5 linked regions of the Homo sapiens genome follow. The protein of the gene in region 5 interacts with the protein of the main gene of each other region in a biochemical or structural test. Each region holds a gene or a part of one and is shown on either strand. Other genes may lie near its edges. The genes, in order: SRPRB, CAMK2G, GORAB, AIG1 and RCHY1.

Region 1 (3,522 bases), on a different chromosome or scaffold from region 5:
TAATAACAACTGTAAATAATGGAAATAATTCTTAGTAGCAGCAATCCCCAAAAAACTCAATTATTATTGCAAGAAAACATGATGGCACCTTGCTTATTGCAGGCTATTAAGAATGATGGTGTATTCTTCAGACCCATACTGTCAATGAGGACTTGATACAGAAACTCAGCCACATCTTTCACCTCTCGCTGGAATGCTGCACTATCCACAACAAACACAATAGCCCTGGAGGGAGAAAACAAGAAAAACTGGCATGTGAACGTGTAACAGGACATCATTATCTTGAAAAACTATCCTGAACTTCTTCAAAGTCAATCTTGGTGATTAACACTCAGCAGACACACATGCAGGTCTGTGCATATGTTATCATATAACATAAATCCTCATTTAACAAGGAACTATTGAGTGCTACTGTGTATCAATGACTGAAGCTGAAAAAAGACAGTAAGAAATGATGCCTGTCCTCCAAGACAAATCATCATATAGAGAACCATATGATAAATGCCAAGACAAAACTATGCACATGTGTAACAGGAATAAAGAGAAAGATCATTTAAATGAGACCAGGTCAAAGGCAACTTTAAGGAGAATGTAACAGTTGAGTTGAATCTTAGCTAGACCAAAAATTGGGGCACAGGCTGTCTGGAAAGTACAGGTTGAGTATCCCCAATCCAAAAATCCAAAGTCTAAAATCCAAAACACTTCTGGTTCCAAGCATTTTGGATAAGGGATACTCAGCCTACAGTATGTTCAAGCCACAAATACGTGAAACACATTCCCTGGGGAAGTCAAGGTAAGCTGGTACACAGGGAGATGGGGAAATGAAGGAGAACCAAGTCAGACAGTGAGGCGTGACACAATGACCTGTGGAGTTCATGCTTTTCTGTCTTATGAAGAATATTGGTGCCTAAATGGAAGACAAAGCAATCTTAGAGGGCGCTTGAACTAGAAGCACAGTGACCAGGTAGGGCCTGAACTAAGGCAGCCATAGTGGGACTCCTCATGTGACAGAAACAAAGAGATATCAAAGCTAAAGTGCAGCAGCCCAGGGAAACTGCAGACAACAGGTCTTAGGGGGCCGGGTGCGGTGGCTCACGCCTGTAATCCCAGCACTTTGGGGGGCCGAGACAGGCAGATCACTTGAGGTCAGGAGTTCGAGACAAGTCTGGGCAACATGATGAAACCCAATCTCTACTAAAAATATAACAATTAGCCAGATATGGTGGCGGGAGCCTGTAATCCCAGCTACTTGAGAGTCTGAGGCAGAAGAGTTACTTGAACCCAGAAGGCGAAGGTTGCAGTGAACTGAGATCATGCCACTGCACTCCAGCCTGGGTGACAAAGCGAAACTCCATCTCAAAGAAAACAAAAAAACAAAAAAACCGGCCAGGCGCGGTGGCTCACGCCTGTAATCCCAGCACTTTGGGAAGCCGAGGCGGGCGGATCACGAGGTCAGGAGATCGAGACCATCCTGGCTAACACGGCGAAACCCTGTCTCTCCTAAAAATACAAAAAATTAGCTTGGTGTGATGGCGGGTGCCTGTTGTCCCAGCTACTCAGGGGACTGAGGCAGGAGAATGGCGTAAACCTGGGAGGCAGAGCTTGCAGCGAGCCAAGATCGCGCCACTGCACTCCAGCCTGGGCAACAGAGCGAGACTCCGTCTCAAAAAAAAAAAAAAAAATACAAGCCTTATGGACAAGGGTTTGAATGCCCAGGTGGAGATAAGAGACATGCAATGGCCAACATGCAGCTGGGGAGCTAGAACTGAATGCCCTGCACAAAGCCTACAACTTAAAATAGTCTCAGGGAGGTCGGGGCTTGCAAAAAAAGTTCCCTTAGAAACAGCGGGCCTCCACTGCCTCACACAGATATAGGGTATGAATTTATACTCTCTCCAGGTGTAAGACCCCCAAGGGGAAAGGCTTACATAAAAATTGGGCCAGACTTATTGAAGCCCTATGGCCCCAACAGAAGGAACTATGAACCGCTTATGGAGCAAGGCTTTCATATCCTACGGGATTAAAGAACCACCACAATATCAATGATGTGTCACTCTTGAAGAAAGGTTCTGGAGCAAAAATTACAAGGCACAGAATAAAATAATTATGAGGGAGAATAACTGGTACCCCAAAGAGAATAATCAGCACCCCAAAACTAAGATAATAAAGCTATCTATAAAGTAAATGTTTAAAATTATTTAAGAAAATACTACAAACTACAATAAAAAATAGAATAGTATAAAAAGAAACAGGCTGGTTTGAAAAGGTAAGTATTTTAGACAAATATAGTAAATGATATTAATAAATCAATGGAAAAGTTAAGCAGAGATCATGCTCAGCTGAAAATAATGTAATAAACTAGAAAACAAATCTGAGGGAATCTTACAATATGCGAAGTAGAAAGATCTGGAAGATACGATAGAGAGGAAACAAGAAAGGCAAAAATAATAAGGTTCAATAACATTCATAAGAATTCCAGAGTGTGAGAAATGATCATGGGGAAACAGCACTACCTGGAGAAACGATGGTGAGAATTTTCCAAAACTGAGGAGAATCTTTGGTTTGGAATAGCACAACTGAATTCCAAGAATGATAAAGCTAAATCCATCCTTGAACAGAAGAAAATCTATCCCTGGATAGAAGGTCAAATCAGGCAGACTTACTACAGTGAAATGACAATTAGACTGACTGGCAAAAACATTCTCATCTGCAACAGATGGATGAGGTCAGGAGTGATGCGGCTGCCACCCAGGACTCTGCACTCAGCTAAAAGAGACATTCCAAAATGCTGGCCAAATAGAGTTACAAATGAACAAAGACTGAAAACATTTGACTACTCATCACCCTCTCTGGAAACACTTCTAAAAGATATACTCAGTGAGGGAAAACTGAATCTAAAGGGAAGAAGTAAAATTCAAGAAGCAATGGGGAGCAAAAGACCATAAGCATCCTGGTAATTCTCATCACTGAATGTAAGAGGAAAAAAAAGTATGGATGGGGGTTAAAAAGGAGCATAAATAAAAGGAAGATGTGAGGAAGATGAAAGTTAAAGTGTTTAAGGTTCAGGAAAAGGAAACTGATATTATTGGATTCAGACAATCAAATAGGCAATGTTTAAAAGATGGGGGAGGGGAACCATGATAAGAACAGCAACAGCATATGTTCAAATCAGGAGAGGGAAAATAGCCACTAGGGAAACTTGGCGAAGCCAGAAAGTAGGATTAAAAAAAAGTCACATACCAATATAGTAAATGTCTTTTCAACTTGCATGTTATCATGATTATAATTTATTTGAACTAAGTTTTATCTTCATATTTTGCATGTTTTATTTACCCAAAATACATGAATCACAGAGTAGTTATACTGCAAATCATAAAATATTTAGAACTGGCAATAGAAAAAGAAAAAACATTTAATTGGAAATAAAAACCCAATTATGGCAAAATTTACCAGCTCTAGATTTGTCTCAATTGTCCAAGGAATTTTCTTATCTGTGACAAATTGTTCATCACCACCATCTTG
Region 2 (3,522 bases), on a different chromosome or scaffold from region 5:
CTTCACACTCTTGAAGGCAGTGTAGCTGGGATTTAAACTCAGATCTATCTTGCCTCTGACCCCATGCTCTTAATACTGTTATGCTGAGACTCAGGAAGCACTACATCCCCAACACAGTTCCTCGCTGTCACGATTTCCCCATCATCCCACTCCCACCCCCACAGACCTGACTTCCGACTCTGCCCTTCTTCCTGGCTCAGCGCTGAGGCAAGGCCCACTGCACATCCTGGGGGCTTTCTACTCCCCTCATCCCAGGCCATGTTTTTCCACCCACACTTCTCATATTTCTTTGGGCCCCAGACTCAGGGGCCCCTGCCTGGTCTCAACAGCACCTCCAGTCTACCCCCCACCCCCAGCAGAGGCCATGCTCCCAGAGCTTACTACCACGGGCAGGTGGGTGGGACTGACAGCTGTGGTGGGGGTCCCTGAGGGGCTTCAGGACGAGCCAGGGAGACGGAAGCCAGAATGTGCCTCCCTCACACTTACTGGCTGAGGAGCAGAGAGAAGGCTGGGGCTGCATGCCTGCAGAGGGGGCTGTTCTGTCCCGGGAGCTCCGTCCTTCAGGCACCGAGCTGCCATTCCCAGTGCGGAGCGGGGCAGCTAGCCAGCCAGGGCAGGGCAGGGCAGGGCAAGGCAGAGCAGCCAAAACAAACAGAACAAGGCAGGTGAGCGAGCAAGCCAGACAGGCCCCGAGCCCATGGCGCTGCAGAGCCGGGGCAAGGGGACGCCTCGCCTCAGGCTGCTGTGGACACTGGACGACATCCCACGCCGCCGCCTCTGCCAGAGAGGCCTCCCAGCTGAGGGCACCAGGCAGGTGCCCAGACCTGGGCTGTGGCTTCCAGACGAGCCTTACAACAGCCTGTCCAAGGACCCCTGATCCCGGGGAAGATGTTCCAGGGGGCCAGGCCACAGGGTCCAGAGCCCAGCAGTGACAGCGCCTCCTATGTTGCCAGCAGTGCCGGAATCAAAACTGATCTGACCTCACTCACAGGGGCCTGGAGCTACTATGATTCACTTCCTCGCAGCTTTCTGCTATTTTTTTTGGTTCCAAAAGGTTTGGTGCCCCCTTGCCACCCAGGGCATGCTCTCCCAGCTCTGTCCTAGAGTGTTCCTCTGTCTTTTCTGATGTCCTGGCCCAAGGTCACTTACTGAATTCAGGCAAAGGGAGCAATTCCAGGAGGCCCAATCAAAGAGCAGGACAGAGATTCCCGGGGGTCCAGCCTGCCATGCCCTCCCACCGCCCTGGCACTCTAGCCAGGCCCAAGCTTAGGCTAGTGGTCCTTACGGGCCCACCAGGACATGACCAAATGTGGCCTCACGGTTGTCAGATTAGTTCCAACTCCATCATTCAGGCCAAAATCTTAGGACTAGAGTGACCAACTCATCCCAGTGTTCCCAGGACTATCTGGGTTTTATATTTATATATATATATATATATATATATATATTTTTTTTTTTTTTTTTTTCTTGAGACAGAGTCTCGCTCTGTCACCCAGGCTGGAGTGCAGTGGTGCAATCTCAGCTCACTGCAACCTCCACCTCCCGGGTTCAAGCCATTTTCATGCCTCAGTCTCCCGAGTAGCTGGGATTACAGGACCCCGCCACCACACCCGGCTAATTTTTTTTTTTTTTTTTTTTTTTTTTGAGAAGAAGTTTCGCTCTTGTTGCCCAGGCTGGAGTGCAATGGGGTGATCTCGGCTCACTGCAACCTCCACCTCCCAGGTTCAAGCGATTCTCCCACCTCCGCCTCCCGAGTAGCTACGATTACAGGCACCTGCCACCACACCTGGCTAATTTTTTATATTTTTAGTAGAGATGGAGTTTCACCATGTTGGCCAGGCTGGTCTTGAACTTCTGACCTTCAGGTGATCCACCCACCTTGGCCTCCCAAAGTGTTGGGATTACAGGCGTGAGCCACTACGCCCGGCCTTTTTTTGTATTTTTAGTAGAGACGGGGTTTCATCATGTTGGCCAGGCTGGTTTTGAACTCCTGACCTCAAGTGATCCACTTGCCTCGGCCTCCCAAAGTGTGGGGATTACAGGTGTGAGTCACCGCACCTGGCCTATTTATTTGTTCCTAATTTTTTTTTTTTAATAGAGACAAGGTCTTGCTATGTTGCCCAAGCTTGTCTCAAACTCCTGGTCTCAAGCAATCCTTCTGCCCTGGCCCTCCCAAAGTTCTGGGTATTACAGGTGTGAGCCAGCACTCCTGGCCCATCACAGTCTTAAAACCAAAAGTTCTGTGTCCGAGGAAAACCAGGAGTGATTGGTCACTCTATTTATGACTCATAGCACTTACAGGCTACTTCGGCAGGGACTTGGGGTACCCCTGTTCTTGGATGGCACATCATTATCAGCAACAGGAACAGTTCTCTGAGCCCTGGCCCCTGGAGAATCTCTAGCTTAGCTATTTTAGACTTGGGGTCAAAGAAGAGAAGCCTCTTGCCCAACTCAGCAACACCAGACAGGGGCCTCATATCTTGGCTCGTGGAAAGTAGCTTTTATACCAAGCCCTCTCCTAGGGGCATAGGAGCCAGCATTCCCAGTTCTGGGGACAGAAAAGGCAGGTGCCCCATTGGAGCCCAGGTACCTGGGTCACTGCTGGAGTCCTTCCCCCTCCAAGGGCCAGCACCTACCTTTGAGGTCCTCATCTTCTGTGGTGGTGTTGCAGCTCTCTGTGGAGCCCTGTAGGCCAAAAAGAACATGTTTCTATATGCTCCATCCCTTGGAAGCCAGAGGAGCAAAGCAGAACAAAAGCAGAGTTTCTGCTCCTACAAGAGGTGCAAGGAGGAATTGTGGAAGGTTCTGCTTCCACCCTGGCTGTCTGACTCTTCCCAAATCCCCTCCCTAGTCTTCCCCCAGTTGGTAAATGCCACCATCTACCCAGTTACTCAGGCTAAAACCTGGAGTCATCCTCAATCCTTCTCTTTCTCTTTTTCCCTTATATTCAGATCGCCCAATCTAAAATAAAATCTTCTGGTTCTGCCTCCAAAGTAAACCCCATGTCTTACCTCTTCACTTCCAATGCACAGCTACAACCTGACTCCAGGCCACCAGCATCTCACACCTGAACCATGATAACAGCTTCATGGTCTCCCTAACTTCCACACTTACCTCCTCCCTAGAGTTTTTCTTTTTTGAAACAGAGTTTTGCTCTTGTTGCACAGGCTGGAGTGCAATGGCATGATCTCGGCTCACTGCAACCTCTGCCTCCCGGGTTCAAGTGATTCTCCTGTCTCAGCCTCCTGAGTAGCTGGGATTACAGGTGCCTGCCACCATGCCTGGCTAATTTTTGTATTTTTATTAGAGATGGGGTTTCATCATGTTGGCCAGGCTGGTCTCGAGCTCCTGACCTTTGCTGATCCACTCGCCTCGGCCTTCCAAAGTGCAGGGATTACGGGCGTGAGCCACCACGCCCGGGCCTCCCTAGAGTTCTTGATCATGAGGCCAGAGTGGTGTTTTAAAGTGTCAACTAGATTCTGTTACTCCTGCTAAGAACTCCCAATAGCTTCTCCTTGCTGC
Region 3 (2,606 bases), on a different chromosome or scaffold from region 5:
TTTTGAGTGAAGGCAGGCTAAAAGGTTAATTCAGTGGTATGCTAGTTCTGGGGTGGGAGGATGGGGAGCCCTGATTTGTAGCGTTTACATTTCCATGGGATAATTACTACCACCCTGTCCAATTTCAAGCCACCAACGTGATATTACTGAATGCAGAACTGGGAAGAGATACACAAAATCCACATGAACCAGGGTAAGCTAGCTTCAGCACACAGCTGGTTAAATTTATGAGAAGACAGACAAGAGATGGAGAAAGTGGAAAATTGTTCTCTTGATTAATAAATTAGAAAAAAAGAAAAATTCTGATGGAGAAAGATACGGACAGTGGTCGGGAGATGAATATAAATGGAACAGAGCACACCCAGCAAAATGATACTGGGTGAGGGCAAGAAGTAAACATCAAGTAGAAAACCTCAGGATAGCTATATGCAGGATTTCTCAACCTTGGTGCTACTGACAATTTGGGCCATATAATTATTTGTTGTGAGAAGCTGTCCTGCACTGCAAGATGCTAAACAGCATCACTGGCTTCTACCCATTAGTTGCCAGTAATTCCCAAAATTTATGACAACCAAAAATGTCCCCAGGCATTGCCAAATGTCCCTTATTGGACACAAATGCTCCCAGTTGAGAATCCTTGGGTTAAGTTGTTCTCATTCTCTCCACTACTCCTCTTACACTCTTACTAGGAAATTTTACATAGTTACACATGTATAAACTCTGTTGACAGGTAATCTTATGTGAAGTCTTATGTGAAATAGGGCAATTCTACTAGAGAAGTCACCTTGCAATCTCACTTTTTTTCTTCTGCATTAGGTCAGTACAAAAAGAAGAGTTATCGTGTCTTAATTTATTGTCTTTTGCCTTTTCTATAAAATTTGTTGCTTTTCTTTTTGCAACAAGAGGGTCCTTCCTCTCTTGCAAGAAAAAAGATTGATTTCCAACTAGTTCTTTAATTTCATTACCATTAGCAGTTGTGAAGGCCATGCTGCTTTACCTGTTATGAGTGCCTACATCAACTTAGTGTAATAAGTAGCTTCTAGTACAAGAGTTATAGCAAAAAAGAAACAGGTATATCTCCTAATTTAGGATTCTCTGTCTTGGAAGAAAATACAGTGAAAATAATAAATGGCTTTCATTTTAGAAAACTCAGGGTTCAAAACCTTCCTGACATTTACCATGTGTACCCATTTCGGTCAAGGCTTCTTGTGGATACAAAGAACAGATATCCAGTCAAACTAGCTCAGGTAAAAATTGGGTTTTATTGTAGGATACACGAGGCAATTTCATAGTCATGTCATCAGAATCAAAGGCTATTCTTTTCAATGCTTAGAAGCGACACATTTTCTCTCATTTCAGCTTTCCTATCATACTCACAGGCCAATATGGCCACCACCTGCACTCTGTATCAAATTCACTCCACCCAATCTCTCAGTGATCCAATTCCACACTCTCAGAGGAGAACATAGGTTTGCCCGGCTCATCTCAGTTTAAACAGAACTCTTAGTGTCAGGCCATGCCGTGAACCACTATTTAGCCTATGGATTAAATGTACTGGAGTCGGTAGCCCATCACTATTCTAATTAGGTATGCCCCAGGTCAGCATCCTGAGTCCAAAACACAGCCAGGTTCCTCTGGAAGGGGTTGGGGAAGAGGCATGCAATAACTGAAAATTCCGGCACAGTGACTCTGAGCAGTTACTTAAGCTGAGTCTTGGTCTACCTGTAAAACAATGATGATAATAATACCTCATAGGAGTTTTGAAGATTAAACAGTATAAATGGGGCAAACTTCCAGTTTTGTGCCTGGTAGGTGCTCAAGAAACAGAACTTCTCATTTAGAACACCAGAATCAAAAAGTACTGTTAATATATTAGTAAGCATGAATCTAAAATTAAGATTATGGAAAATTTAGGGACCTGGTATTTATACTTGAAAACTCATTTACATAATGTTAATTTATCCTATTTCCTTTTTTAACTGTAAATATAGTAAATGTAAAAATGAGAGCACCCATTATCTTTCAATAACCCTCTATGTTAAAAGAATTGTTCTAAAGGAACTCTACTGGATACCTAGTTCCCTTATCTCCATACTTTATAACATACCCTGTTCATGTAATGTTCTTGCAACAAGACAAGAGTTCTGACATTCTCTATAGGTGTATGAATACCCTGCCCTGACCCTGCCTCAAACCTCCCTTTTCTGCAAGTCTGTGGTCTCCTTCAGCCAGTCAAAGTCAATCAGTAGAGATTTACAGTCTGGATTCATGAATACTGAATTGAAATTAACATTTGCGAACAGGTCCCTTGGTTTCCATTGATCTATCACCCTGGATAAATCACTGAAGATTTTGTATTTTGTTTATTTATTTAAAGTCCTTCTGGCCAGAAATACGAATATATATTCTCCCACAGAGTGATTTAATGTTTAAAATATTGATTAGTTTCACAAACTGCACTACCAGCCTATGGTCAGGTGGGTAATACCAAATTAGTGTATGATGACATTCTGGAACAAAATAATAAGAGCATTATACATAACACAGTAAGACAGAGTGAACTGGAAATGTAATTATAGAACTGTTTTGTTATTTTAAAGGGGGAT
Region 4 (3,522 bases), on a different chromosome or scaffold from region 5:
TCTGGTTTTCTGAAATTCCTTTGCAATACAGATTTAGATAACAAAAAAAGTACCTAGATTATATTACCTTAAACTTCTACAAAAATGCCTTCACCTAGCCAAAATATAAGACCATGCCTTTGGCTTTCATAAAACCATCAAATAAGAAACATTAACCATAAAAATTTTTCTATATATTACACTAAAAACCAATCAAAGACATTATCTACTATGCTAACCAATGTTTTTTTTTTATTTTTATTTACAGACAGGATTTGGCTCTGTCACTCAGGCTGGAGTGCAGTGGCACTATCATAGCTCATTGCAAACTCGAACTCCTGGGCTCAAGTCATCCTCCTGCCCCAGCCCCCACATAGCTGGGACTACAGGCACATGCAAGCACCCCCAAATAATGTTTAATTTTTTGTAGTGGGAGCCTTGCTGTGATGCCCAGGCTGGTCTCGAACTCCTGGGTTTAAGCAAGCCTCCTACCATGGCCTCCCACAGTGCTGGGATTACAGGTGTGAGCCACCATACCCACCCTTAATGTTCTTTAAATAAATATCTGAGTGATAAATTACCTTGAAAAGTCAGTGCCTGGAAAGAACTGTATTTTTCCCAATAAATTGTTATACCTCCTTTCTTTCAACATAAGGACAATACAATCAAATGTGTATTGTTTTTCACCTTAGTTGCCCTGAAGATTATTTAAATTTGTTTCTCAATAGCAATAACTAACCCATCTCTCGTATCTGAAACATATCTTTCTTTTATTTTCAAATTGTAATTTCTTACATTTTTTTGTTATATCACAGTGAAAGTCAATCTGTAATATGTTTTGAAAATAGGCAGAATTCAGGCCAGGCGCGGTGGCTCACACCTGTAATCCCAGCACTTTGGGAGGCCAATGCAGACAGATCACTTGAGGTCAAGAGTTTGAGACCAGTGTGGCCAACATAGTAAAACCCTGTCTCTACTAAAAATACAAAAATTAGCCAGGTGTGGTGGCAGGTGCCTGTAATCCCAGCTACTCGGGAGGCTGAGACAGGAGAATTTCTTGAACCTGGGAGGCGGAGGTTGAAGTGAGCCAAGATCACCACTGCACTCGCCTGGGTGACAGAGTGAAACTCTGTCTCAAAAAAAAAACAAAGAAAATAGGCAGAATTCATATATTAAGACTGCTCTACAGGGTCCTACAATTAATCCATGTAAATGAAAAAACAATGCAACTTAGAGCAGCATTTATCAACCTTGAATGTGCATAGAAATCACCTGATGATCTTATTAAAATGCAGACTCTGATTCAGAAGCTCTGGGGTGGAGCTGGAGATGCCACATTTCTTACAGGCTCCCAGACAAAGTTGATCCTGCTGGTCCTCAGCCCGCACTTTGAGTAGGCAGGGCCTGAACAATATTCTGCCATGACATGAATGAAAAGCCAGTCTAGGAGGAATAATGGGTATGATACGGCCCTAAGAGAGGATGACTCTCAAAATGGCCAGTACTACAAACTAGAGCCAATGGGATTCCCAGATATGTTTCAATCTTTAAAAATCAAGATGTCTTACATCCATCATCAATATTTTAAGTTTTCTAAAAAATCCAGTTCATGGTTTTCAAAGAAGTTGATTCTGACTCATCTGTTAGACTCTACCATATACATATGAATAATGTTCTGGTTGATACATTTTTAAATTCCTATCATTTTGAATGTTTTTGGGAGGAGACAGGACAAGAAAAGAATACTCAATGAAAATTTGGGAAGAGAAAGCTTCCATTTACTTAAACATTTACTAAACACCTATTATACCCCAAATACTACTTTAAGACCTCAAAATACATTTGCCTTTTTCTTTTCATTTATTTATGTTGGTTTTATCCTAATTCTTCTTTATTATCTTTTGGGGCAATTATCATGTAACACACAGCATAATCATTTTGCTAGTGAATGAATCCACATCACTTGAAGAAAATTCATCAGCTGTGATATTGACTAAGAAAGTGTTAATATTTGAGTAACAGCTAGTTTAAATTTTCTTTCTTTCCAGCTTATTTCCAATTAAGTGTATTTCTTCTCCTGGCCTGACATGTTACTTAATGATAGTCTCTGAAATACTTCATAGTAAAGACCTAGTTTTTCCAAAGTTGTCCATGTCAGGCCTCTAAGCCGAAGCTCAGCCATTGTAACCCCTGTGACCTACACATATACATCCAGATGGCCTGCAGGAGCCAAGAAGTCTGGGGCAACCGAAAAACCACAAAAGAAGTAAAACAGCCAATTCCTGCCTTAACTGATTAACCAACATTACAACATTCCACCGTTGTGACTTGTCCCTGCCCTACCTTAACTGATCAACCGACCTTGTGACATTCTTCTTCTGGACAATAAGTCTTATGATCTCCCCACCATGTACCTTGTCACCCCCTTCTCTGCTAACAATAAATAACCACCTTTTACTGTAATTTTCCATTAGCTACCCAACTTCTATAAAGCAACCCCTTCCCCATCTCCCTTCGCTGACTCCTTTCTCAGACTCAGTCCGCCTGCACCCAGGTGAATTAAAAGCTTTATTGCTCACACAAAGCCTGTTTGGTGGTCTCTTCACACAGACACGCTTGACAGTCCAGTCTTTACAAATCCTCATATTGCCCACTGTTACACATATGTATGTCTCCTCCACATAATTTCATGGATGAAGTAGGAAAAAACTTGCATTTTTGTTAAAGCTAAAATTAACCAGTTATCTACTATACATAAAGGGCTAGCTGAGTCACTGCATTTATTTCATATAAGTACAAAAAGAGTTAAGTTTTTTTTCTAAGTCAGAGGCTTTAAAGCCAAGTATACTAGTTTTCTATTACTGTGGTAACCAATTACTATCAATTGAATGGCTTAAATGACACAAATTTATTATTTTACAATTCTGGAGGTCAGAAGTCCAAAATACACTACCATTAAGCTGTCAGCAGGTATGTGTTCCTGGAAACTCTAGGAGGAAAACCATTTTTTTGTCCTCTCCAGCTTCTAGACACCTCTCACACCCCTTGTCTCCTGGCTCCATCCTCCATCTTCAAACCCAGCATTGTCGTATCTCTCTCTGACTTTCTTCCAGTCACATCTTCCTCCAACAAGCTCTTGTCTTCTGTTTCCCTATTCCTTTTAAGGACCCTTGTAATTACATTGGGCCCAATGGGATAACTCAGGATAATTACCCTATTTTAAGGTCAATTGATTTGCAATCTTAATTCCATCTGCAACTTTAATTTCCCTTTGCCATGTAACCTAATGTATTCACAGGTTCCTGGCATGAGAATGTAAACATCTTTGGAGGCCCATTATTCTGCCTACCACACCAAGACAGTGTTCTTTTTCCATTTACTAACTTCAATTTTCCAAAAACACCTTAGTTCTCTTACAGTTTCTCAATACTAGGAAAAGAAACCATTGGAGAATAACAGTATAAGATTACTGGTAGCAACAATGTGTATTTCAGTTTTTGACCATAAGCTCTGAATCTACTGGAATGACCCTCATACCCAAGG
Region 5 (3,522 bases):
AAGAAAAGGAACTGTAGGTCAGATATTCTGAGGTACATATTTTAAAATATCTACTTGTTAATACTGCTTTTCAAAAAAGCAATATAGTTGCACTTGGAAATACATGAAAATTAGCATGCTTCCAAAACATATTAGAAGTTAAGCTTATTGCAAAAACACTGTAATATTTTTAAAATTATACAAACTAAATTATATACCTTGTGTCTTCCTTGAAGATTCATAGCTAGGCATAAGTTACATTTCAAACAATGGAAAAAATCTTCCTTTGGACCAATCCTAGCAAAACACATGAAAGCCAAAAGATTAGATTATTTTTTACTACAGTCATGATTTGTTCATTATGTAAAACACAAGTTTAGTCTCTGTAAAAAAAATTTCCAGCCACAATGGAGAATATGGGATAAATCCCTATCTCCCCAACATCCCTCTCCAAATGTAAGCACTATACACAGAGTGGTATCTACCCTTCTAGGGCTTTTTTTTCTTTTTCTATAAAATTGCAAAAAGAGAGAAACACAGACACACACACACATTTCGGGTTTGATTTCTTACATTAATGGATTCTTTCTACAGATGCCATTCTGCAACTTTTTTTCACTTGATATATTCTGAGGATTTTATGTCTGTCTACACAGAACCACTTCATTCTTCTTAATAGCTACATTAATGGCATGGATGTATACTAATTTTTTTAAATATTCCCTCAGAAAGATCATAATTTATGATCTTTAGTTGCTACAATGATACAGTAAACATCCTTGTCCAGACATCACTTAGTTCACATGTTGATTATTTTTTACGAGATTCCTAGAAGTGAAACTACTGAGTCAGAAGATGTTGCAACATTAATTGTGATACTGCCAAACTGACCTCCAAATAGACAGTACCAATTTATACTTCCACCAACACTGCATGAGAGTAACCATGTTCCCCACACTTTGGGTAACATGGTTACTTGTATTATAGACAAACAAAAGATGTCATTTTAATTTGCATTTCACAAATAATGAGACAGGGACTGTACATTAATGAACTACTTGGATTTCTCTGTGGATTGTCTGTTCATATGTTCTGTCCATTTTTCTACTGAAGTATTTGTTTTTAACCAATTTACTGGTAAAAAATATATCATGAATATTAGTTATTTATATAATGAATATCAATGTTTTCATTCGCATGTATTATATTTATATATCACCAATATCAATTTTTTATTTGCATATTTTATATTTACTTTTCTGGTCTGTGATTTCTCTTAACTTTGTCATATAGCCATTTTTAATTACTATGTGGTAAAAAGTCATCAATATTTTCCTGTATAGCTTATGCTTTCTGCCTCTTGTTTAGGAAACTTTTGTAACCTATAGATCATAAACAGACTCTCCTATGTATACTTCTAGTACTTACAGCTTTTCATTTTTATATTTTTCTTTAATCCATTTGAAATTTGCTATATATGGCAAAGGTTAGATTGCTACTTGTCCCTAAATTTCTATTCTCCACTTCTTCTACAATGATAGGGTATTTAGCTAGGCACTGAGCTATTCAGAACTGTCCTGAATAAAGACTATTTTCCAACATACCTGGACGTTGGGAACAGAAGAGATACATGAAAATTCTGCATTGTACCCTCAAGAGGAAAAATATGCCTTCCCTTCACCTAACTAGCCTTTCTACAGACCAGAATATGAGGCATTTTAGACTACAGAGACAAGAAAATATCTTATGGGTGACAAGGCAAAAAACAAGAAGAGCCTGAGTTCCTGTTTAGCTACACAACTCAGATTTATTTCCATGAGAAATGAACTTCTGCCTTTCTTGAACCACCATTACTTTGGGTTTCTGTCACAAGATGCTAAATCCATACTCTAATGAATACAGTTTGAAGAGTCAATTTTTGGTTTCCGAATGGATAATCAATTATCTTAATACTACCCTTTCCTGATTTGAAATGTCACTTTTGCCATAAATTCATATGTATAAATATTTGTCTGTGTATATACACACACACATATTTATCTATTCGTCTATTCCTGCACAAACAGCAAACTATTTGAATTACTATAGCTTTATCATGTTTTGATATGTGGAACGGCAATCCACTCTTCGTTGTCCTTCCTTCAAAATTTACTCAGCTATTGTGAATTTTCTCTTACAAATGAACTTTAGAATAGGCTGTCAAACTCCATAAGTAAAATTCTGCAGGGACGTTTCCACTACTGCCAAAGATAGAATAACGGAGATCAGACCTACCCTCCCATCTGAAAAAATAATGACAAAAGACAGAATATATGAAACAGCAGTTTCACTGAACATCAGGCAACAACACAGAGTGATCTGTGAGAGATAAGAAACAAAGTAAGTGAGCCCTAAAATTGCTCATTTATTGCCTAGAGAGTTTTGAGGCCAGGACAGGTTAGAAGAACTAAGGGTGAGCTAGGAAGACATCATGATTGAAATGATGAGCTGAGACAGTCTAGAGAAACCAAGACAGATTCATAGGACAGAGCATCAGATAGGAGAGAGCTGCACAGAGAAACCTCTGAAATATTTAGTAGGATACCCATCAGCACATGGATGTAAGAAAACTACCCAAAGCCAGGGAAACAACCTTCTAAAGAATGAGAACAGTACTACTCACACATGGCTAGGAACAGTGCCTGATCCCATCAAACAGACTGGGGAAACTCATAATTCGCAGGCTCCGGGTGGAGTATTCAGAAGGATATTGCCTCAACAGTGGAGAATAGCCCTGGGATAAGCCCTTCTGTAGATCTACCTAACAAATTAGAAAAGTAAATCCCAGAAAGTCTAAACTGTTTCCAAGTAACTTAACTGCATCCCAAAATAAAGCTCAAGAAGATTTATAGGAATACAAAAATACCCAGCACTAAACATGATAAAAAGAAAAATCACATCTGATATCCAACCCACAATAACCAGGCAACAAAGAGGCAGAAAAACACAACCTAAAATGAGAAGAATAATCAATCAATCAACCCAGAACAGACACAGATGTTAGAATTAATACAGGGCATTAAAAGTTATTATAACTGTATACCATTACATTAAAAAAGTATTAAATATGAAAAATATGTTTAAAGACCCAGATCAAACTTCTAGACATAAAAACTACAATGTCTGAGATTTAAAAATACACTGATGAAACTAATGGCAAGTTTGATATTGCTAACAAAAAGGTTAGTCAACTTGAAGGCACAGTAACAGAAACTATCCGAAATGAAATAGGAAGAAAAGGGAATTTTTTTAAAACGACAGAGCATGAGTAAGCTGTGAGACAACTTCAAGCAACCTAACATACATGTGTTCAGTTGAGCCTAACGCTGCCTCCTACATATTTTAAGATCGTCCTAAAAGGCTTTGCTGTACATAGTTAACTGTAACCTAACTGGATGTGTTTACCTACAGTAACCTACTCTAGTACCAATCAATCACCAAGTTTCATCCAATCACAGGCAGTCCTCGGTTCAAACTGTGTTTAAATAAGGCAAATGCTGAGCT

Evidence for each region.
Region 1: of the proteins of RCHY1 (region 5) and SRPRB, one has a biochemical effect on the other in vitro, tested with the Homo sapiens proteins (one study listed by BioGRID).
Region 2: of the proteins of RCHY1 (region 5) and CAMK2G, one has a biochemical effect on the other in vitro, tested with the Homo sapiens proteins (one study listed by BioGRID).
Region 3: the proteins of RCHY1 (region 5) and GORAB form a complex in vitro, tested with the Homo sapiens proteins (one study listed by BioGRID).
Region 4: the proteins of RCHY1 (region 5) and AIG1 form a complex in vitro, tested with the Homo sapiens proteins (one study listed by BioGRID).

Annotation. Positions count from the first base shown.
Region 1 is NC_000003.12:133,812,293-133,815,814, reverse strand, and holds part of SRPRB (signal recognition particle receptor subunit beta), read right to left. Parts: intron 226-3,522; coding exon 89-225; intron 1-88. UniProt on the Homo sapiens protein: Component of the signal recognition particle (SRP) complex receptor (SR). Ensures, in conjunction with the SRP complex, the correct targeting of the nascent secretory proteins to the endoplasmic reticulum membrane system.
Region 2 is NC_000010.11:73,819,046-73,822,567, forward strand, and holds part of CAMK2G (calcium/calmodulin-dependent protein kinase type II subunit gamma), read right to left. Parts: intron 2,686-3,522; coding exon 2,637-2,685; intron 601-2,636; coding exon 487-600; intron 1-486.
Region 3 is NC_000001.11:170,549,152-170,551,757, reverse strand, and holds part of GORAB (RAB6-interacting golgin), read right to left. Parts: intron 1-2,606.
Region 4 is NC_000006.12:143,063,888-143,067,409, reverse strand, and holds part of AIG1 (androgen-induced gene 1 protein), read right to left. Parts: intron 1-3,522. UniProt on the Homo sapiens protein: Hydrolyzes bioactive fatty-acid esters of hydroxy-fatty acids (FAHFAs), but not other major classes of lipids. Show a preference for FAHFAs with branching distal from the carboxylate head group of the lipids.
Region 5 is NC_000004.12:75,493,904-75,497,425, forward strand, and holds part of RCHY1 (RING finger and CHY zinc finger domain-containing protein 1), read right to left. Parts: intron 277-3,522; coding exon 198-276; intron 1-197. UniProt on the Homo sapiens protein: E3 ubiquitin-protein ligase that mediates ubiquitination of target proteins, including p53/TP53, TP73, HDAC1 and CDKN1B. Mediates ubiquitination and degradation of p53/TP53; preferentially acts on tetrameric p53/TP53.